Linked DNA regions of Homo sapiens. The protein of the gene in region 1 interacts with the protein of each later gene in a pairwise test. Each region holds a gene or a part of one and is shown in the gene's direction. Other genes may lie near its edges.

Region 1 (8,487 bases):
GATCTGCCTGCTTCGGCCTCCCAAAGTGCTGGGATTACAGGCGTGAGCCACCGCACCCAGCTGATTACATACTTCTCACCAAGATATTTTTACAAAGCTGAACAATAATAAAAGATAAACACTGGTTTGTAAACGATGGACAAAAATTGCTTTTGAAAAGCACTTATATTTCATGTGAACCAGATTAAAAACTAACCAAAAAGAAAATACTAAAGGTAAACATTTTCGAGTGTATTTTTGCAGAGTAGGCCACAGATAAAGAAATAGCAAGGTCCCTGGGGTAGTCAAATTCAAAGAGACAGAAAGGAGAATGAGTGGTGCCAGGGGCTGGAGGACAGGGGACGGGGAGTTGTTGAATGAGTGGAGTTTCAGTATTGAAAGATGAAAAGAGTTCTGGAGACTGGTTGAACATCAATTCAAATGTACTTAACACTACTGAACTATGTATTTAAAAACAGTTAGGGCTGAGCATGGTGACTCATACCTGTGATCGCAGCACTTTAGGAAGCTGAGGCGGGTGGATCATTTGAGTTTGAGACCAGCCTGGCCAACATGGCGAACCCCCCGTCTCTACTAAAAATGCAAAAATTAGCTGGGCGTGGTGGTTCACCCCTGTAATCCCAGCTACTTGGGAGGCTGAGGCAGGAGAATTGCTTAAGCCCAGGAGGTGGAGGTTGCAGTGAGCTGAGATCACGCCACTGCACTCCAGCCTGGGCCACAGAGTAAGACTCTGTCTCAATAAATAAATAAATAAATAAATAAATAAACAAACAAACAAACAAATAAATAAGGGTTAGGATGGCAAATTTTATGCAATGTGTGTTTTACCACAATTAATTTTTTTAAAAAGTTTAAACAAGAAGTAGCAAACTATAATGAAGAAATATGTAAAAAAAAAAAAAAAAAGAAGCAAAAATATGAACAGTACAGGATCGATGTGTTCCCTGGGAGAAGATAGAGACAAAAAAGAAGGGCGTGGCCTCAGCTCCACTCTGTGCTCAGGGTGAGACCCAGGCTTCCCTCTCCCCTGACCTCCTCTCTCTGGCCACTGCATCCTCTGTGCTCTGGCCACTGGGCCTTTCTCTGCCCCTCCGGCATGTCCAGTGTGTTTCCATACTGAGGCCTCTGAGCCTTCTGTTCCCTGTGCCTGATGCTGTTTCCTCAGATTGTCACACAACCAATATTTCTGGAGCGTGTACTGTGCGCCAGGCACCCTGCTAGGCATTTTGAAGCACTCAAGTGAGCTGCCTTCCTGGAGCTGCTGTTCTAGCAGACAGTAAGCAAAACCAAGCAGGGTGAGGGGGACTAAGAGTGGCAAGGGGTGTGTAGCAATTTTATTTATTTATTTATTTGAGATCAGGTCTCGCTTTATCACCCAGGCTGGAGTGCAGTGGTGCAATCCTGGCTCACTGCAGCTTCGGCCTGCCTGGTTCAAGTGATCCTCCCACCTCGGCCTCCCGAGTAGCTGGGACTACAGGTGCCTGCTACTGCACCCAGCTAATTTTTGTATTTTCGGTAGAGACAGGTTTTCACCATGTTGACCAGGCTGGTCTCAAACTCCTGACCTTAAGTGATCCTCCCGCTTTGGCCTCCCAAAGTGCTGGGATTGTAGGCGTGAGCCACCATGCCTGGCCTGTGGGTAGGAATCATTAGGCTCAGCAGCATGAACAAAGTGACATTTGAGAAAAGATGGGAATGAGGCAAAGAAGTTAGTTGTGCAAACATCTGGTGGAACCACTCCAGGCAGATGGAACAGCCAACCCCAAGCCATAGGGCAGGACCTGCTGGTGTAACGGGCCCAGAGTTCAAGTCAACAATCAGACTTAATGACATAATTAAAGGTGCTCAACTTCATGAGTCATCAGGAAAATGCAAATTAAAACCACAATATGGCACCTCTACAATGCACCAGAGCAGGGAAAATGGAATAAACATCACTGACACTGACAAGGACAAGGAATAAGTGTAGTTTCATCCCCTGCTGGATATAAACTAGTACAACCACCATAGGAAACTCTTTGGCAGTGTCTACCAAAGCTGAACACAGGGCCATCCTATGCCCTGGCGATTCCATGCCCAGGTATATGCCCAAGAGAATGGCATTCATATGTTCCCCAGAAGACACACACAAGAATGTTCACAGCAGCACCATTTATCAGAGTCAAAAATGGAGTCTGGACATGGTGGCTCACACCTGTAATCCCAGCACTTTGGCTGGTGGAGGCGGGAGGATTGCTCGAGGTCAGAAGTTTGAGACCAGCCTGGGCAAGATAGCGAGACCTCATCTCTACAAAGGATTTTAAAAAATTAGCTGGGTGTGGTGGCATGTGCTTGTAGCCCCAGCTACTCAGGAGGTTGAGGTGGGAGGATCACTTGAGCCTGGGAGGTCGAGGCTGCAGTGAGCTATGATTGTGCCACTGTACTCCGACCTGGGTGATAAAGTGACATCCTACCTCTAGAAAAAACAAACTGAAAAAGCTTGGTCCCTCCATTTCAAATACTGAGATTTCATAGATGAAACTACTTCAGAAGTCTATTGAACCCTCCTCTATCAAGGCAATCACATTTTCATTCAGCTTCTGGGGGGGAAATGCCTACTACAAATGCCATCCGTGATTGAATGGAAGCAAATCATTTTGGGGACAATTCTGATTTTAGTGGCAAGGAGGTATCTGAGCTAAGAGCTGCCGGGAGGACTCTCACCCATGAGAAAACCAGCCCTCCAGGTCATTCCTATACTTCACTGTCAAATCTCCCTTTGCCTGTTCCGGCAGCTTTATTCATAATAGACAAAGATTGGAAACATCCCAAACCCCCTTCAGCAGGAGACCGATATACACATTGTGTGTGGTATGTGCCTATCACGCAATAGGACTCAGTGCTTCGAACAGGGCGGGAGGTGGGAGGACAAGCGAGGATGAGCGTGGAGTCCTCACATGGCAGAAAGGCAGAGGATCAAGCCAGCCCACTCCTGCAAGCCCTTTCTACGGCATCCCAAATACATTCATGACTCAAATACCCCCACAAAGGCCCCACCTCCCAACACTGTTGCAATAAAGATTACATTTCCAATGCTTGAATTTAGGGGGACACTAACTACCACATTTCTTGCTAACATACACATCTCTTTAGGGAAGGTCTTTGGACATCACTTTTTTTTTTAAGACAGGATCTTGTTCTGTTACCCAGTCTGGGGTGCAGTGGTGCGATCACAGCTCACTGCAGCCTCAAACTCCTGGGCTCAGTTGATCCTCCCATCTCAGCCTCCCAAGCACCTGGGACTACAGGTGTGCATCACCACGCCCAGCTATTGTTTGTATTTTTTTTTTTTTGTAGAGACAGGGTTTTGTCATGTTGCCCAGGCTGGTTGGACATCATATTTTGAGCACATTTCTGGCTGTTTTTAAGATTACATTCCTAGGAATGTTGGTGAATTGATGGGGGACAAAAACATTTGTTTCCCCTTGAGAGGCAATGGTACAGGGGAGGGGTTAAGAGCATAGACCCTAGGATCACATTGCCTAGGGTTGAATACTAGCTCTGCCACTTACTGGCTACAAGACCCTGGACAAGTCACTTCCTCTCTGTCTCTGTAAATGAGCATAATAGCAGCACCTGCCTCAGGGGGTTGTTGAATAGGTTCAATGAGCTAATATATAAGAAACACATGGTATATGCTATAAAGTGTTGTCTTCTTTTCCTTCTCCTCCTCCGCTCCCTGGGATTATTACCATAATGATACAATTATCATTTGTTCTTTCTGTAAAATGGAGTTTGATGTTGGAGCTGCTTCCTAGGCAGTCAGGCAGGGCAGTCACTGAGAATGAGGACGGCGTTTCTGACTCAGCTGTGGGCGGGCAGCTGCAGTGACACAGCTGAGTCTTGGCAAACACTTTTCATGTACGAAGCCTGACCCTGGAGTCTTGAGGCTGAACTTTTCACCAACAAACAGGAATGCATTCATGAATGTTACCTCTGGGTGCTGTCCTCTGGAAGCCATCTGCATAGCCTAACTCTGCCACCCTGGCTTGGACAATTATGGTGATTTCTCTGATGCCCCTGATACTACCACCTCAATCTGAATTTAGCAGCTCCCTTCACATATGGTTAGATTGCCTTTAAAGAGATTTTTTTTTTTTTTAGAGATGGGGTCTCACTATGTTGCCCAGGCTGGTCTTGAACTTGTGGGTGGGCTCAAGCAATCCTCCCACCTCAGCCTCCCAAAGTGCTGGGACCACAGGTGTGAGTCACTGCACCCGGCCTAGATGTCCTTTTTCAAACGTAAGCAATCATGCTCAGGTTTAGGATTATTCGTGCCTGGGTCCCCCTCCCATACTGAATTGCTATGGACAGCCAGCTAGTCTTCATCCTGCACCCCCCAGCCCCTGTGCAGCGTTAATGAGCCAGAAACGCTGATTCTGCTGCTGAGTTCCGTGGAACCCCCTGGGGCATTTTCCTGACTACCCCCAGTGTGGCCAATCCGTGTCCACTGAGGATGAATGTGACTCCAGGAAAATACATGAAGTAACTCTGTGCCAAGCTTGGTGAATGAATTGAGCCATGCCAATTCTGTGCTATAAATAAATTTACAAGACTGGTTTTCTTGCGTGGCTCATAAGCCAGGTCTAGCTGCCACTCCCCCAGAAGTCTTCCAAAAAGTATTTTGAGCAGGACCTTTAGACTGGGGTGTTGGAGTCCCAAGGCCAAGGCCGACCGCGCTGCTCTGGGCCCAGCGGGCGTTCCCACACGGGGCTGTAATGCCACGATTGGCCGCAGGAGGGGGGCCGTATTCCAGACCCCATTGCAGAAGCCTCCGCAACTGCTCCAAGAACTTTATTTTATACGGACTGGCGGCGAGAGCAGCTGCAGTTCGCATCTCAGGCAGTACCTAGAGGAGCTGCCGGTGCCTCCTCAGAACATCTCCTGATCGCTACCCAGGACCAGGCACCAAGGACAGGGAGTCCCAGGCGCACACCCCCCATTCTGGGTCCCCCAGGCCCAGACCCCCACTCTGCCACAGGTTGCATCTTGACCTGGTCCTCCTGCAGAAGTGGCCCCTGTGGTCCTGCTCTGAGACTCGTCCCTGGGCGCCCCTGCAGCCCCTTTCTATGACTCCATCTGGATTTGGCTGGCTGTGGGGACGCGGTCCGAGGGGCGGCCTGGCTCTCAGCGTGGTGGCAGCCAGCTCTCTGGCCACCATGGCAAATGCTGAGATCTGAGGGGACAAGGCTCTACAGCCTCAGCCAGGGGCACTCAGGTGAGTCTTGGTACTAATTTTGTCCTATCTCCTGGGCATGCTGTCTCAAAGACAGCTGGAGGAGACTGGAGTGAACTGGATGGAGAGGAGTACAGAGTTTGGGAAACTTCAGACCTAGAGCCTGGAGGTGCCTTCTCCAGGTGGGAAGGTCCCCGCCTGCTGGGCCCGCAGATATCTGCCGGGCCCTCATCCAACTGCCTGGGCTGGAGAGAATGTGAGCCTGCATTTGGGGTGCCAGAGGGAAGCTATTGCCTTGGTGGCTACTCCACCTGACTCATGTCACAGCTCAAGAGCCTACTCAGGGTGCAGATGGCTCAGGTGACAGCTCCTCTCCATGGCTTCGTGTGTGTGCATGTGTGTGTGTGCATGTGTGTGTGTGCATGTGTGTGTGTGTGCATGTGTGTGTGTGTGCATGTCTGTGCGTGTGCATGTGCCAGTGGTGGGATATATGTGGGGAGAGGTTATTTCTAAAATATCTGTCTCTGTCCAGCTTTGGGTTATGATTTAGCTTAACTAAGTACAGTTAGAGGAGGAAAACATTTAAAACCTCCTTAGTGATTCTCTCTTTGGAGAAGGGCCACACTCATGTGATTTTTTTCCTTGGTTTTGATGAGTTTAAAGTGAGGTAATCCAAAGAAAAGCCATAAACCCTGCAGAGTTAGATGCGGGTACCCAGAGAAACTGACTTGGTAGCAGCAAATGAGGCTCGTGCTACCCACTCAGAGGAGGAATTAATGGAGTCCTTCTGATCTCCAGAGAAGGATTGAAGAGCCAGGGTCCTGATATCAGCCCTAGAGTGCATTCGCGATTGCCTTTTACAAAGGGAACTTCAAACAGCTTTGTTTCTGAGACTGGCTAGGTAGGAGGGAGGCCTTGGGAACCTGGACACCCCCTTACCTGGCTGCCAGGCAGAGTCAGAAGATGCTGGGGGATGCTTTTTCTCATCAGACTGCCACCAGCTCCCCTGAGTGACCTTGTTCATAAAGTCATGCCACATGCATTATCTCACGGGAGGCTCACAGTGATCCTGGGTGACCAGCAGCTACCCACCTTCCCATCTTAGAGGTCATGTACCTGAGGCTGAATGAGGTCAGGTAATTGAGCCAAGTTCCCCCAAGAAACCAATACGCAGAGGAGCTAGGATGGGAGCCCTTGGCTTCTGTGTTCCCTGCATTCCTGCAGAGAGCCAGGCCTGCAGGGCGCAGATGGCCCCAGGGCACAGGGCTGCAGGGCACAGATGGCTGAGGGCTTTTCCAGCTCTAAAATGCAGAATCTAGAAGCAGATCCCTGGCTCTGAACCTGCCCTTCTAAGTGCCTTGGGTGAAATTGTCTGGAAGTAAATCATGATTGCCAAGAGGTTAGTGGAGAGGGTGACACCTCCCTGTTAGAGCAAGACCTCCCTCTTTGAGTTGCAAGTTGAGGTCCAGTCTCCTTGGGCTTCATCCACAGGTCACTGTGGCTTCCACATCTCGCCCATGTGCTTCAAGCTCTCAGAGCCCTGCCTCAGTCCCAGGATCCCCACCTGCTGGAGTACACTGGCTGGCAGTCTGAGGTGGGATTCTCTTCTCTGCCTGATCTGGGGCCCAGAAAGTGGTCACCAAAGGGGCTGACATGCAATTCCCAAACAAAGCAACCCTGCAGCTGAGCCAGTGCCCTGTGTAGGAAAACTGTGCCCGGGGCCTCTTCCCGCTCTGATATCCATTCCTTCCTTTGCCTCTTTGGTCTGGGATGGCTTATGTTTAAAATGGGAGGGACGGAATGCAAATGCCATCAGCCTACCCCCAACACAGTGCTCCTGGGAGGAGCACTTGCCATCAGTTTCATCTTCTAGAGCACAGACTTGGTCCAAAGACAGTAAGATCCATGATCTGAGGGTCCCAATGCCTGCTTCCTCCCCCAAGAAAGAAAAACAGCCCCCAAGAAACCTTGGGCAGACAGAACATGCGTAGGTTTCAATTCCAAGTAACAAACATGAGTAGAGTTGTCTGAGCTTTTCCAAGCCCTGTGCACTCACATCTGGCCCCGCTCGGCCCCAGTCCCTCTCCCCAGCAGATCCCCTGGGCTCCTGCTGGACCAGCTGAGGGGTGGGGAGGAGGAAGGAGACAGCTGCCCTTCACACACATTCTGGCTAACAAGCCGTGCATTCCAGCCCCGTCCCAGGAGCTGACCAGAAGAGGAGGAAGGTGGAAATGGCAGTGGGGCCTCACACCTCCACTCCCCAGGGGCAGCGCCCTGTCTGGCTCTGTGTGGCCTCTGGGAAGCAGAGGCTATTGCCTTTGGCAGAGGGAGGGTTATTGCAGGCAAAAGAGACATTGGCCTCCTGCTTCACAGCCCCGCAAGGAGTGAAGCCAGAGGGAGGGCTGCCGCACACAGTGCTCATGAAATGAGGGAGGGTCCCTTGCAACTTAGCAGTGCTGGAGCTGCCCGCGGCCCCACCTAGAGGCCCTGCCTGGGTGGAGGCATTGGGTGGAGGGCCGGAATTGGGAGCCCAGTGAACTGGACACCACTGCAGCACAGGGAAGCCAGAGTGGGTGGTGTCTGGGGCAGGGAGGAGAGATCCTGGCAGAGCCGAGGACCACCCCCTGTTCCATCCCTCCCATAGGCTGGAGGAGAGGCCCGCAGATACTGGGAGCCCCAAGGCTGTGTGTGTGCACATGCGTGTGTGTGCCCGTTATGGGGGATGTACAGAAGGGCTAACAGCAGAGGCGTCCAGCCCTCCTGGGTCATTAGAAGGACATGTATACAGTGACTGGTCAGTTCTGGTCTCTTCTCAGCCCAAATGTCAGAGGTCTGTGGAGGCCAAGCTCAAGTCATGAAAATAGGGGCTTCAGCTGGGTGCAGTGGCTCACACCTGTAATCTCAGCACTTTGGGAGGCTGAGGCCAGTGGAGCGCTTGACTCCAGGAGTTCCAGACCAGCCTGGCCAACATGGTGAAACCCCATCTCTGCAAAAAATTAGCTGGACATGGTGGCTTGTGCCTGTAATCCCAGCTACTCAGGAGGATGAGTTGGGAGGATCACTTGAGCCCGGGAGGCGGAGGTTGCAGTGAGCCAAGACTGCACCACTGCCATCCAGCCTGGGCAACAGAGTGAGACCCTGTCTCAAAAAAAAAAAAAAAAAAAAAAAAGAAAGAAAGAAACAGAAAAAAAAAAAGAAGAAAGAAAATACGGAATTCTTGTTTTGCTCTGCTGCAGAGCAACCCCGCCAGCCGCCTTCCCTGATTATGTCTA
Region 2 (4,875 bases), on another chromosome or scaffold:
GAGCCATGGCTGTCCCTGTTGGCCCAGCCGGGCACTCACAGGGCAGAAGGGTGGGTCTCAAGTGGGAGGATAAGGCTTCACCACCAGGAGATTCCCCTCTGCCCGATGACTCTGTTAAGAGTCACGACCCATCAAGGGAATGCATAGATGGAGATATATAGTGTGTGATGTGTAAATCAGGTCAAACCTCAACGACAATTGAAAGTTGTTATTGTCCTATGAGGTATCTTAGCATTCTCGATGGGTATTGAGGATGGTTGGATGTGCTTTATTGTGTGTGGAAACATGCCTCTCTTTGCTAATCATTTCAGAGGTCCAGTTTTCCTTTCACTGGACAATCTTGAATAGGAGGAACGCTGTTGCTGTAATATGCGTAGCTTCTGTGTGCTCTTGTGTAGTCTGTGTGTGATCAAAGGGCACGGAAGTGGCTGCACTTTCACATCCCTTTTCTTTACTTAGCTGGAACCTTACATACCAGTACATGCTCCTCTGTAAGCAGCTGAACTCACCGGCCACTTCTCTGTTTGCCTATAGACAAAGACTGTGTGTGTGTGTGTGTATGTATGTGTGTGTGTGTGGTGCACACATTGTGTTCTTAAACTGAGACGTGGCTCTGCAGGTCTCCTGGGCTCATTCCATGGTGTGGTATGTTTATTCCACTGTCCAGAGCTATTCTCTGATGGATTTGAGCAACAGCAGTGGAGATAAATGTCCTAGAGTCACCAGGTCGCTTGGAGAAGTCATTTAAGCTGCCTCGGGTTTTTGTTACTTAAAATGTGGATATTATTTCTCCACCTAAATCACTGAGTTTACAGAGTAATAATGTGTTGCTCTGGACATTGACAGCTTTCTAGAGCCAGTAATGGGCTCTTCTGAAGGATGCTGAATTAGAAGTGAACCTATTCATAGGATCAAAAGCCACTTGCTTTGAAATATGTAGAGTTCCTCAGAATTGACGGTGCTAGAAATATCCAAGTGTTAAATAACCTTTTAAAAGCAACAAAAGCTACTTTTTTCTTACCACTTAATAGAAGAACCTGTCCCTAGAGGCGACTTCATTGCTATGGATCTGGAGTCTCTGAACTCTTAATAGGATGCAGCCTCACATACATAATGTCACCCATTTTATGTTGATGAAAACATTACAAGTTTTCTTCATTGGGTATGTGTTGATGTTCACAGACAGTACTTGGGCCCATTAGGTTTTCGCGTCTGGTCTTAGAGCATGTGTATTCATCTCAGCGTGAATACCTCAGCCAGTCTTATGAATAGGAGGCTATGTATGGGCAGGGAATAGATTAGATTAGAACACTCGCACAAGATGACCACATATAGAAGCAGAAAGCCCCAAATTCCCTGGGAACTGTTTTTTCTCTAGTAGCTGAATATAAGGAAATATGTCTAATGGACACCAGTTAATACTTTTTAAAACTACTCTTTAAAAAAAAAATACGTTCCCCTTGGTTAACTGATTTTTTAATCCAGGGTGGACATTTTTTCAACCTTTATTAAAAAGACAAATAAACTATTTTGTAGAAGATCAGACTCCTACTTAACTGGAAGAGAAATGTCTATTAAATGTCTCTCCTCTTTCTCTGGGTCAAGACCATGTAATTTTATGCTTCAGAGATGAAGATACTGTTTGTTTACAAAGAGTTTAGTTTTTAAGACATCCAAAACTCTATGCTAGAGCAAAAATCAAATAGCAAAGGACACTAGCCAGAAAATACAGTGTGTGTGTGTGCACCTGTGTGCCTGCTGAACAACTTGACAGTGTAACAGATAAGGTAACTGAAGATGGTGGATATTTGAATTGTATTAGCTTAATGTCTACATATCTTTGGCCAAAACTCTATTGTCATATTAGAAACATGTTATCTTTTTCATGTTTATTAGTAATTTATTTTTGATTCTTTGTTTTCTTTTTCGTCCAACTAAAACAACTGTAATGTACTTGATACATTTATATCAAGTTCTAAAGTATTTAGACAAATCCAAATACTTTGTTTTTAGTTTTTTCCTCCTTTCCATCCTGTTAACCACAGTGAAACGCTGCAGTATTTTGATTTGGTCAGTGCTACGGAGGAAGACCATGAAAGCTGAATTGGTCTGTGCCACCCAGAGTAAACCTCTTCTCTTCTTCTGGAAAGATGGCGTGATGTTTTTCAAGGATTCTAATAAATATCCCGCAGTCATCTCCTGAGCAGCTTTCCTCTGTTTCACTTCAGAACTCCTTCCCCCACTTTCTTCACTCCAGTTTCTTCACTTGCAGCGTTTTCTGCTAAGAAAGACTTATCATCTTGTATCTGTTTATGCCTCTCTTCTTTGGGGCCCCTGGATGTTTTTGTGGATTTTTACAGAGTATTTATATCTGCACAGCGTGTATTTTGTTATACATTCTTACAAGCATTGATATTGGGGGGTACATTCATAATAGTGAGAATATCTGGCAGAATGTGTGAATGCCATATCTGTAGATGACGATGAATGTGAAGGGTTAATGTAGAAATGTTTGTTTATTCTGTTACAGCTCAAAATGGAGGCTGAGAATCTCTACCACCATTCCCTTCTCTATTTGAGAATCTCTACCACCATTCCCTTCTCTATTTGGGAAACAATACTCTCTTATTTTGCTATTTTTACCTTCCCATTAACTGGCTTCACTCAACAGTGCCAGATACCTATGGAGAGGGGAAGTAAAACACCTTAGGTCAGGAATAATAAACCAATGAGTTAGCTCAGGGCCGGTGGACATGTTCACTGGTGGACCAGTTGGCATTGACCTAAACGGACAGAGAAATGCACATGGAGGAGAACTACGTTGAAATCAAGATCCTATGTCTGTTGTATTTTCTCTTTGCCTGGAGTAAATAGCATTATAAGTCATTCCACCCTTATTAGATAACCAAAGCATATTGGTCTCAATAGCTTTCTCCTGAAAAATGTGATTGAATCTTACCTGTAGCAGTTCACTCTTAAGGTTGAAAGAACTGTCAATATAGATAAAATCCATTCCTTATTATTATTGATTGGTGTGACATTTGAAAATGTGTCTAAACAATATTTGTAAGTAAAAGAACCAGTCATAAGCCTCAAATGTGTTCAGTGTGTACCAAGCTGGAATGGGAGACTGGCCCCTCTTGGCTTTAAAGTAGCATGTTGTCTTTTTCTAGCAGCTTCTTCCTAGTAGACATTCCAGGGATGGGAGGGGCCAGGGATCATGTCTTACTCATTTCTGTATCGCCAGCCCCTGGCATAGTGTCTGGCTTATGTTATGTGAATAAATGAATGCTTGCCAAGATCTCTTCTTCCCTCAAGTTTCTGGAAAACCTGAGGGTTCGTGATACCTGTTCCCACTCCTCATCAGCGGGTTGGCAAGAAAGCAAATAAGGGGAAACATTTTTAACATTCCAAGCAAGAGAAGGAAGAACGACTATTGGGAGGAGGTACACCAGAGATTGCTCAGTGTGCAGCCTGCTACCTCACTTTTGGCTCTGGATTGCCTGGTGGTAGAAGGGAAGAGTATTATGTAGTTAGCACCTTACATATTTGATGCTCAGGAAGAAAGTGCAAGAAGATCCCTAATAGAACATTAAAGATTCTTAAAAGTTTTTGAAGTAGGCTGCTTGGGGTGACCAGCCCCACCCTTACATCTCCATAGTTGGTACAGTTAGCTTGTAGCAGCTGAAGCTGATGCCTGGAGATCACTGTCTGTTGGTCTGATCTCAGTATCATACTGAGACACCTCCCCTGAGCCTTACCTACTTAAATTGGTAACCGTCCTACCAAAATTTGTCAATTTTAATCAAGTGAGGCAAGTTGCAAGGGAGCCAGAGATACGTGAAAAAAGAAAAGCAGAAATACTGATACTTTCTAAGAAAGAAGTTGTAATAATTTCTTTGGCACATTGACTTACTGATATCTTTTGAAATGCATAGATGACTCTTGTGAACCAAAGAGAGCAGTAGTGGTTATTCCCCGGCGCAATAAAAATGCCTTTGTGTATCACTTGCGATTGCCAGTCATTTCTGTGCCAGTTGCTTTCATTCCAGAGAATGGCCTCATTCTCCAAAAAAAGATGATGATTTTAGAAGTAGGATTTCCTAACAAATTATGTGGTGGGGAGGGACGGCGGGGATTTTATTCATCCCGTCTGAGCTCTTCATACAGTATTACCATTAGGTTTTAAGAACAAAGATGGGGGAGGAGGGAGTAGAAAGCTGAGAGTACGTAGAACAGCTACAAGACATTAGTGGGTATTCAGATTTTGAGCTGTGTAAATATCAAACATCGGCTTCCAGCCTTAAGAGTTATTTGAGCAGAGAGTTAAGGAGGAATGGGAGATTTTGTGAATAAAATGTTTTGCCAAACTGAATGAGTCTTTTTGCCATTATTTCTTATAGAGAGCTATTTTTTACCTTCTGAAACAACTCATCAGACATCTGGGGTTTATCTTGAATTGTACCATCATTGTTTCTTAATAAAAGTGATAAATTTCTTGCAGGTGTTTCCAATCACCATTACCTTTGAAGTGCCTGTGTGCAGTTTCAAAAGCTCTCCAATTTTTACCTTGTATAGTGGTGGTGGCATATTTTACTACAAACGATTGTCAGCAATCTCTCTTCCTAATGCCTCGCAGCTGGATCAGTAATAAACCACTTCTCAGGCTGGTTTCTGCGCCAGAAATTAGTTTACAGAGGATCAGCCTACTTTTGGAAGTTTTAGAGGTTTGTGGCAGTACATTCTATAGCAAATCTCTCAAAACCTCTTTGCCTTGATAGAAATACACTGACTTTTGTCAGCTGCAGTGACCAGCTCTCTTTGTCTTTGATATGTTGCTTTTAAATAAACCTCAGCTGGAAAGTAACTCTTCAA
Region 3 (8,312 bases), on another chromosome or scaffold:
AAAAAAAATTAGCTGGGCGCGGTGGCGGGCGCCTGTAGTCCCAGCTACTCGGGAGGCTGAGGCAGGAGAATGGCGTGAACCTGGGAGGCGGAGCTTGCAGTGAGCCAAGATCTCGCCACTGCACTCCAACCTGGGCGACAGAGCGAGACTCCGTCTCAAAACAAACAAACAAACAAAAAACATATATATATATAAATTAGCCAGGCATGGTGACATGCATCTGTAGTCCCAGCTACTCAGGAGGCTGAGGTGGGAGGATCACCTGAGCCTGGCGAGGTCGAGGCTGCAGTGACCTGTGATTGCACCACTGCACTCTAGCCCAGGCAACAGAGCAAGACTCTGTCTCAAAAACAAACAAATGAAATTTTTAAAAAATTAAATCAAATTAAAATTTTAAAGAGAGGCCAGGTTTGGTGACTCACACGTGAAATCCCAGCACTTTGGGAGGCCGAGGTGGGTGGATCATGAGGTCAAGAGATCCAGACCATCCTGGCCAACATGGTGAAACCCCATCTCTACTAAAAATATAAAAATTAGCTGGGCGTGGTGGTGCATGCATAGTCCCAGCTACTCGGGAGGCTGAGGCAGGAGAATTGCCTGAACCCGGGAGGTGGAGGTTGCAGTGAGCTGAGATCATGCCACTGTACTCCAGCCTGGTGATGGAGCGAGACTCCGTCTCAAAAAAATAAATAAATAGAAATAAAAAAAGAAGCGCGGCACAGTGGCTCACGCCTGTAATCCCAGCACTTTGGGAGGCCAAGTGGGTGCAGATCACTTGAGGTCAGGAGTTCGAGACCAGCCTGGCCAACATGGCGACACCCCATCTCTACTAAAAATACAAAAATTAGTCAAGTGTGGTGGCACACACCTGCAATTCTGGCTACTTGAGAGGCTGAGGCAGGAGAATTGCTGAGGCGGAGGTTGCAGTGAGCCGAGATTGCGCCATTGCACTCCAGCCTGGGTGACAGAGCAAGACTCCATCTAAAAAAAAAAAAAAAAAATTAGCTGGGCATGGTGGCGTGTGTCTGTAATCCCAGCTACTTGGGAGGCTGAGGCAGGAGAACTGCTTGAACCCAGGAGGCAGAGCTTGCAGTGAGCCGAGATAGCGCCACTGCACTCTAGCCTGGGCGACAGAGCAAGACTCTTATCTCAAAAAAAAAAAAAAAAAAAAAAAGAAAAAGAAAAAGTCCATACAAATGGAATAGAAAAATACTAAGACCTTAATAGTTAAATGGATACAGAACATGAATAAACAAAAGGGGGAAATATGAAGGGTGAACTAATGAGAAAAACAGTGCAACCTCACTAATAAACAAATCAAAATTAAAACAATGAGCCATCACTGCCTGCCTTTCAAACTAGCCCAGATGTCTGCATTCACCTCCTGGCTGGCCTCCTCCCTATGCTGTCTCACTCTCCCAGTCCACTCTGCACTGCAGAGTTCTAATACAAATCACGCTGTGTCACTTGCCTGCCTAATGGGCTCCTTGATGGTCACCAGGAGAAAGCCAAACTCTGCTGCCTGGCACATCTGCCAGCTTGCAGCCTGATGCCATTCTAGCCTCGCCTCCTGCCATGTCTCACTTAGTTCCAGCCAAATGGAACTTGTGTGATTGGTTCCACACCATGGTGCCTTCACTTATGCTATTACTGATCCCAGAAGCCCAACCTTTCTTCTCATCCTGTTCCTTCAGGAAGCCTTCCCTGACACCACCAGTCTCCTCTGGATGTCCTTCTTCATGTTCCGTCAAACTCTTTTTTTTTGAGACAGAGTCTCGCTCTGTTGCCCAGGCTGGGGTGCAGTGGCGCGATCTCGGCTCACTGCCATCTCTGCCTCCCGGGTTCAAGCGATTCTCCTGCCTCAGCCTCCAAGTAGCTGGAACTACAGGTGCACACCACGCCACCACACCCAGCTAATTTTTGTAATTTTAGTAGAGACAGGGTTTCACCATATTGGTCAGGCTGGTCTCGAGCTCCTGACCTCAGGTGATCTACCCGCCTTGGCCTCCCAAAGTGCTGGGATTACAGGCGTGAGCCACTGCGCCCGGCTGTCCCCGTCGAACTCTTTCTTCCCAGTGTCACAGCGCTGAGCACACGATAGCATGATCATTCATATTACTCGTCTTTCTCCTTCACTGGAATGTGAGCTCCTTAGGGAACTATGTCTTATTTATCTGTATAGCCCCAGCACTGTACCCAGAGCCAAGTATGTATGAATGTATGTATATATGTGTATGTATGAGCATATGAATGGATGGATGGATGGATGGATAGATGGATGGAGATACATGAGCAGGGCCACGAGTAAGCTGAAGTAAGAAACACCTGAGGATGGGACGGGGGAGGGTGGGTGCCTTACCTCCCGAAGGGCATTCTGGGCAGCACGGTACCAAGCCCAACTCACGAGGGAGGCCTCTTTCTGATCTGACAGAGGCAGGAAGCTCAGAATATATGTGAGCATCTGAGGGAAAAAGACAGGGCATTGGGGACTGTTAGAGGTGGGAGGTCTTTGGAACCCACTCCAGCTGACAGCACCATGGGTCTGAGGGCACCAGAGCCCTGGCTTCTACTTTATCTTGGATGTGAAGCTTCACGAAGCATTCACTTCCCCGCTCCAGGCTTCAGGTATCTTTCCTGTAAACAAACCTTTCCTGAGCTGGGTGCAGGCTTGCACTGACTGATAAGAATCAAACTTCCTGCCTAGCTGGGTAGAAAAAGCCTGGGCATTGAGGCCAGATAAACCTAGTTCAAATCTCTACTCTGCCAACTGACCTCTCGAACTTTGTTTTCCTTATCTGTGAAATTGCAATTGTAGTGAGATTTAAATGGATTATTGTGAGAATTAAAGAACACAGCCAAGTGTCTTGCATAGGACCTAGAGCACAGCAGGCCAGGTGTGCTCACTCTGGTCCTCAGGAAGTCATGCTTGGTCCTCCTGCCCTCATGGCTCAGGCTCTGGGACCCTGCTGTTTTTCTGTCTTCTTCACTGCCACCTTGCCCTCTCCACTGGTTGTTAAGATGCGCTCCCAGCAAGACCTAGCCTGGGAGGCTCAGGCCCTTCCCCCCACCTAGGGGGTGGTGAGGTTAGAGGTCCTAAATGGGACTGGGGAAGGGGTTACCAGTGAGGCCTAGAATGATTTGATATTAACTCTTCTTTTCTTCTGGAATCTTCCTCCCTGCATCCCAATTGTCTCGTTTTTGGATTCTTCTGTGGCTCCCAGGGCTCAGACCTGGGTCTTTTGGTTTTCTGTTTACCAACACAGGAATAACCAACAATTCAATATTCCCATATTGTCCTATTATCCAAGTGCTAGTCCATATTGCCAACTGTCCATGCAAATGTTTAGCCATCACTTTAATCTCAACCAAAACTCATGTTCTACCCTCAGCCCAAAACAGCCTCTCCTCCCAAATTCCCCTTTCAATGCCAACAGTGCATCTACCTGATAACACTTTCAACTATTCAAACCATTCTGTCCCTTCCTCCCAGATACAGGTGTAATGCACAGGCTTTAGGCCAGGCTAACCTAAACTCATTCAAATTCCAGCTCCACTACTTCCACATATACTGATGTGTGACCTTAAACAAGGTACTTGACCTCTGGGAGTTTCAGTTTCCATATCTATAAAATAGGGATACTTTAAAAAAATCTAGATCATAGCCTCATGGGGATTAAATTTTACATATATATAGTGTGTGTGTGACAACTAGATGTTCCATAAATGGTTGCTGGATTGCTGTTACTAAAATTTCTACCTCTGCAACTTCCCCACCTCAGTAGCTCAGATTTCTACCACCCCAAACCTGGATTCCTTCCACAATCTCCCACCTGAACTCTTTGCCTCCAAGTTCATCCTTGCTAATACATTATGCACACTGTCACAAGGTTAATTTTTCCTATAAAACAGTTTTCAGTTTCAGCTCACCCCTGCTGTAAAACTTCAGGGTTCACAGTACTCTCAGGACAGTCTCCACTCCTGGATCAGCACTGCCAGGCCTCTGTGCCTGATTGGACTCGCTGGTCCCCAAACTTCCCCAGTCCAGTCTCCCCATTGCCCTACGCACACAGCATGTCTATTTCCTTTTGCCTATGCGGGCCTTTTCCCTGGGATCCCCTTCTTGAAGCTTAACTTCACCAACCCATTGTGATCTCTCCTTCCTTTCTCAGATGCCAAGCACGCAGGCACAGTGCTCAGCCAGTGCTTACTGGATTAAATTAAGGTTGGACAGTCCAGTCCTCTACCTCTATTTTCACCAAGAGTATGCTCAGGGAAGGGGTCGGGGAAATAAAGCAGTCATTACTGAGAGGACAATGACTGGCAGAATAGACTTCTGGGCCAGGAAGGGAGGCATAGGGAAGACAGTATTGATGGGGACTGGGACTGACCAAGTCCCAATCCCTCCAGGGAGGCACGGAAGCCTGTTTGAGCTGAGTTAAGACAGTGGCCATCCTGTCTTCTGGGGCTAAGCAGCCAGCCCAAGAGCAAAGGGAGAGGGGAACAAACCTGTCATCCCTTGGGGTGAGTCGGGAAGGGACACAATTCATTGACCTAAGAAGAGGGTGGCCTTTCTAGAGGGACAAGAGGAGGCAGTGATGAGGATGGAGTGACCATCCCATGAGTCCCATCTCAAGGGGGCTACTGGAGATAATGATTGGTCACTCATGGGGTCTATGGGGATGGAAATAGATAGCCCCTAAAGCTAAGGGGGAAAGGGATAGCACTGCAAGCTCAATAGGGGTGGGAACAGGCCTATTTTTGCTAAGGACAGGAGCATCATTCCAGGACCGATGGGAAAGGGTGGCCTGTTTCCCATGGGCAGAGAGAGGGGGCTGCCAACCCTCAGGACAAAAGAGATGGAGAAGCCATTCCAACAGGCCACTGAAGACAAAACCTGTTATCTCCCTGGCAGATGGGGCAGAGTGGTCTTGCCCCTGGCTAAGGGGAAGGAGCAAACATCCCACGGAGTGAAAGAGGTAAGGGCGGCCATCACTAGGGGCCTAGGAATGGGGAACAGGCCTATCCTTGTTAAAGGAACTCAGAGATCATTGCAGTTGATGGGGAGGGAGCAGTCTGTTTCCCACTGCCAGGGAGAAGGGGCGGCCGTCTCTGTAGGAAATGGAGAGATCATCCCAAGGGACCAATGGGGATAAGATCAGTTACCCTTCGGGACGATGAGATGGAGCGGACATCTTCCAGAACTGAGCGGGGAGGAGACAGCCACTTCAAGGGAAGGGGATGGGCAGAGGGCCTGTTCTCGCGGAGATGACAGGGCAGCTATCTTCTGGGGCCGATAGGGAAGGGGAGGACGGTCCCCCAAGCTAAAGGGACAGAGTGGCCCAAAGGAGGAACCGTTACCCAGAGCTAGAAGGTCCCGGGATCGGGAGGGCGGGTCGTTTCCGCCAGGCTGGAGGGGCCGGGCTAGCTATCTGACAGCCCCTCCCCAAAGCTCAGGACCGCGAGGGCGGGGCCTGTCCAGAGCTAGGCCTGAGGGCGGCTTCCTCTCACCTCCAGGGGCAGCGACTCCGCCATCGCATCCCTGCCGCCTCCGCCCCCACTGCGCAAGGCTTTCTGGGAAATGTAGTCTCGCCTCTTTGGGGCGGGGCTTGGGAAGGAAGTGAGACCTATTTCCGTCGCAAAAGCTGACGACTTCGGTCTGCGCCGGAAGTGCATGAGCTGCCGATGTGGTGCTTAGTGATTGCGGTTTCGGTCGCTCTCCCGTGTTTCCCGGGCTGGGTATTTGCCTCGCACCATGGCGGTAAGGAGGATGGATAGGGCGGGGTCCGCACCAGCAAAGCTCTCCAGGGGCTGTGAGAGTGAAAACTGAGAAAGAACATTAAGGGATATGGGGTGGGCCAGAGCGGGGCGCCATCCCTGGCCAGACCGTGCTAGAGCTGGGCTGGGGGGATGGCGGCGCAGGACCATACCAGGACTAGTGCCAGAGCGGGGTGGGCATCAGTACCAGGGCAGGCCAGAGATCTAAGTGACCTGAGGTGGGGGTTAACCCAGATCGGGACTACGCCAGCGGAGGCCTGAGAGAGGCACCATTCAACTCCGCTCAGGAGTACCCTTGGAAGAGTCGTTAGCCTAAAGCCAGACTACCACGGGATCCAGAGGCGGTATTAGCTTAGGATTGAATTGTTCCAGGGCGAGCAAGAGGCGATTGATCCTAGCTGCGGGTGCTGGAGAGATGGCGTCAGCCCTAGGCAGAATGGACTGGAGGATGGGTGGACATCCCAGGGATTTTGCTAGGTTTCTGCACTACGGGGACCTGGCTGAGTTGCGGATGGAGCTCTATAGCTCACCAGGCTGGTGGGGAGAATGAGGAGGACCGTGGCCTCCTGACGGCATCTCATCATTCCTCTGCAGCCCAAGGGCAAAGTGGGCACGAGAGGGAAGAAGCAGATATTTGAAGAGAACAGAGAGACTCTGAAGTTCTACCTGCGGATCATACTGGGGGCCAATGTAAGTGCCTACCTCCTTGCTTCTATGCCCACTTATAGTCAGTTCCCTAGTCCTCAGCCCTGCTTGGTGACGAGGAGTGGTACCCGAAAAAGCTCTAGAAGAGAGCTCCAGTCAAAAAGAAATGAGAGATCTGGGCACAGAGAAAGTGCTAACTAGTAAAACACAAAGAAAATGAAGGCGTGAGTCGTAGCTGAATTTGAGAGCTCTTCCTACCTCCAAGTACACAAAGGCTTCTTTCCTGGGCTGAGTTGGGTGTCAGAGGAGAGTGGGTATTTGGGATTCAGGGAGCAGGGCCCTTTCTTCAACCCTGTAAGAACAACCTTGCTCCTCCCACAGCCTGGCCTAATTCTTGGTCAGAGTTGAGGGAGACCCATGGTTTGGAGGTAACTTCTGACCCCAACCTGATCCTGTGATTGCTTGCAGGCCATTTACTGCCTTGTGACGTTGGTCTTCTTTTACTCATCTGCCTCATTTTGGGCCTGGGTAAGTATCTCCATCCTGGGAGGTGGATGAGTGCGTAGGGTCAGTGGCTGGCCTTTGATACCCTCATTCTTGCTCTGCAGTTGGCCCTGGGCTTTAGTCTGGCAGTGTATGGGGCCAGCTACCACTCTATGAGCTCGATGGCACGAGCAGCGTTCTCTGAGGATGGGGCCCTGATGGATGGTGGCATGGACCTCAACATGGAGCAGGGCATGGCAGAGTGAGTGTCCCCCACCGCCAGCCCAGGTGAGCGGCCCCAGGGCTGGGGCCCAGATAGCCCAAGAAGCACAGCTACTTGTAACTTGAAAAGGGTGGAAGGGAGTTGCAACTTGAAAAGGGTGGAAGGGCCCATATGCTGTCTTTCCAGCTTTATTTCTATCCACAGGCACCTTAAGGATGTGATCCTACTGACAGCCATCGTGCAGGTGCTCAGCTGCTTCTCTCTCTATGTCTGGTCCTTCTGGCTTCTGGTATGTGGGCTGGGGGCGCTCCCAAGAAGGGGCATCTAACCCTCCCCATCTTTTATTCCCTGCATCTTGCTTCAAGTTACCGTTTCTCTTGTAGGCTCCAGGCCGGGCCCTTTACCTCCTGTGGGTGAATGTGCTGGGCCCCTGGTTCACTGCAGACAGTGGCACCCCAGCACCAGAGCACAATGAGAAACGGCAGCGCCGACAGGAGCGGCGGCAGATGAAGCGGTTATAGCCATTGACATTGTGGCCACAGGCCACTGGCCCTGGGTGGCTCTGTCAGGGTGCACAGCCCCTCATGCCTGGAGCAATGAGGGTCTAGTCCAGGGGCCAAAAGCAGTCTGAGGTATTGGGTATACTTATACTCTATAGGGTCGTTGAATAAATGGCTTAGAATGTGGCTGATGGCTGTGTGGGTGATGAGGGATGAGGCAGGAAAAGCTGGTCCTATGGGATTTCCCTCCTGCTACAAACCCAGCCTGGTGGGGACCCTGAAAGAAGAGAAACCTGTTGGATTAGCTAAGAAAATTTTATTTTGCTCCGTGCGTTCAAGGAGCTCACACACATGCACATGCATATGCATGCACACACACACATACACACACACTCACATGCATACACACACGGCTAATACTGCTCAAGGCATGGCTCCTGGGCACAGAGTTCTGGGGCCAGAATTCTGCTCTGGGCCCTCCTCACTCTGTCATCTCCTGCACTGCAGTCCAGGGTCCAGATAGATTTCCGGGATACAGCACCTTCACACCTCCAGGCCAGGACCCTTGCTTAGTCCCAGTGCCTGCACCAGGTCATCTCCGAGCCCACTCTTCAACGTCCTTCTCACTGCAGGGACAGAGCAGGGTTGGAGGGGGTTGATGGGGTTCAGGTGGGCAGTGGGATTGT

Evidence for each region. The genes of interacting proteins can lie anywhere in the genome.
Region 2: the proteins of SCARA5 (region 1) and SLC35B4 interact in binary tests that used the Homo sapiens proteins (3 or more experiments, as listed by UniProt).
Region 3: the proteins of SCARA5 (region 1) and TMEM208 interact in binary tests that used the Homo sapiens proteins (3 or more experiments, as listed by UniProt).

What each region holds. Positions count from the first base shown.
Region 1 is NC_000008.11:27,989,027-27,997,513, reverse strand, and holds the start of SCARA5 (scavenger receptor class A member 5), read left to right. Parts: upstream 1-4,840; 5' UTR 4,841-5,257; intron 5,258-8,487. UniProt on the Homo sapiens protein: Ferritin receptor that mediates non-transferrin-dependent delivery of iron. Mediates cellular uptake of ferritin-bound iron by stimulating ferritin endocytosis from the cell surface with consequent iron delivery within the cell.
Region 2 is NC_000007.14:134,288,832-134,293,706, reverse strand, and holds the end of SLC35B4 (nucleotide sugar transporter SLC35B4), read left to right. Parts: 3' UTR 1-4,375; downstream 4,376-4,875. UniProt on the Homo sapiens protein: Antiporter that transports nucleotide sugars across the endoplasmic reticulum (ER) membrane in exchange for another nucleotide sugar.
Region 3 is NC_000016.10:67,221,467-67,229,778, forward strand, and holds TMEM208 (transmembrane protein 208), read left to right. Parts: upstream 1-5,663; 5' UTR 5,664-5,752; coding exon 5,753-5,758; intron 5,759-6,252; exon of another isoform or gene 6,253-6,369; coding exon 6,370-6,465; intron 6,466-6,888; coding exon 6,889-6,948; intron 6,949-7,028; coding exon 7,029-7,165; exon of another isoform or gene 7,166-7,191; intron 7,192-7,330; coding exon 7,331-7,415; intron 7,416-7,509; coding exon 7,510-7,647; 3' UTR 7,648-7,812; downstream 7,813-8,312. Other genes in the region: FHOD1 (FH1/FH2 domain-containing protein 1), read right to left, coding at 8,170-8,252. UniProt on the Homo sapiens protein: May function as a negative regulator of endoplasmic reticulum-stress induced autophagy.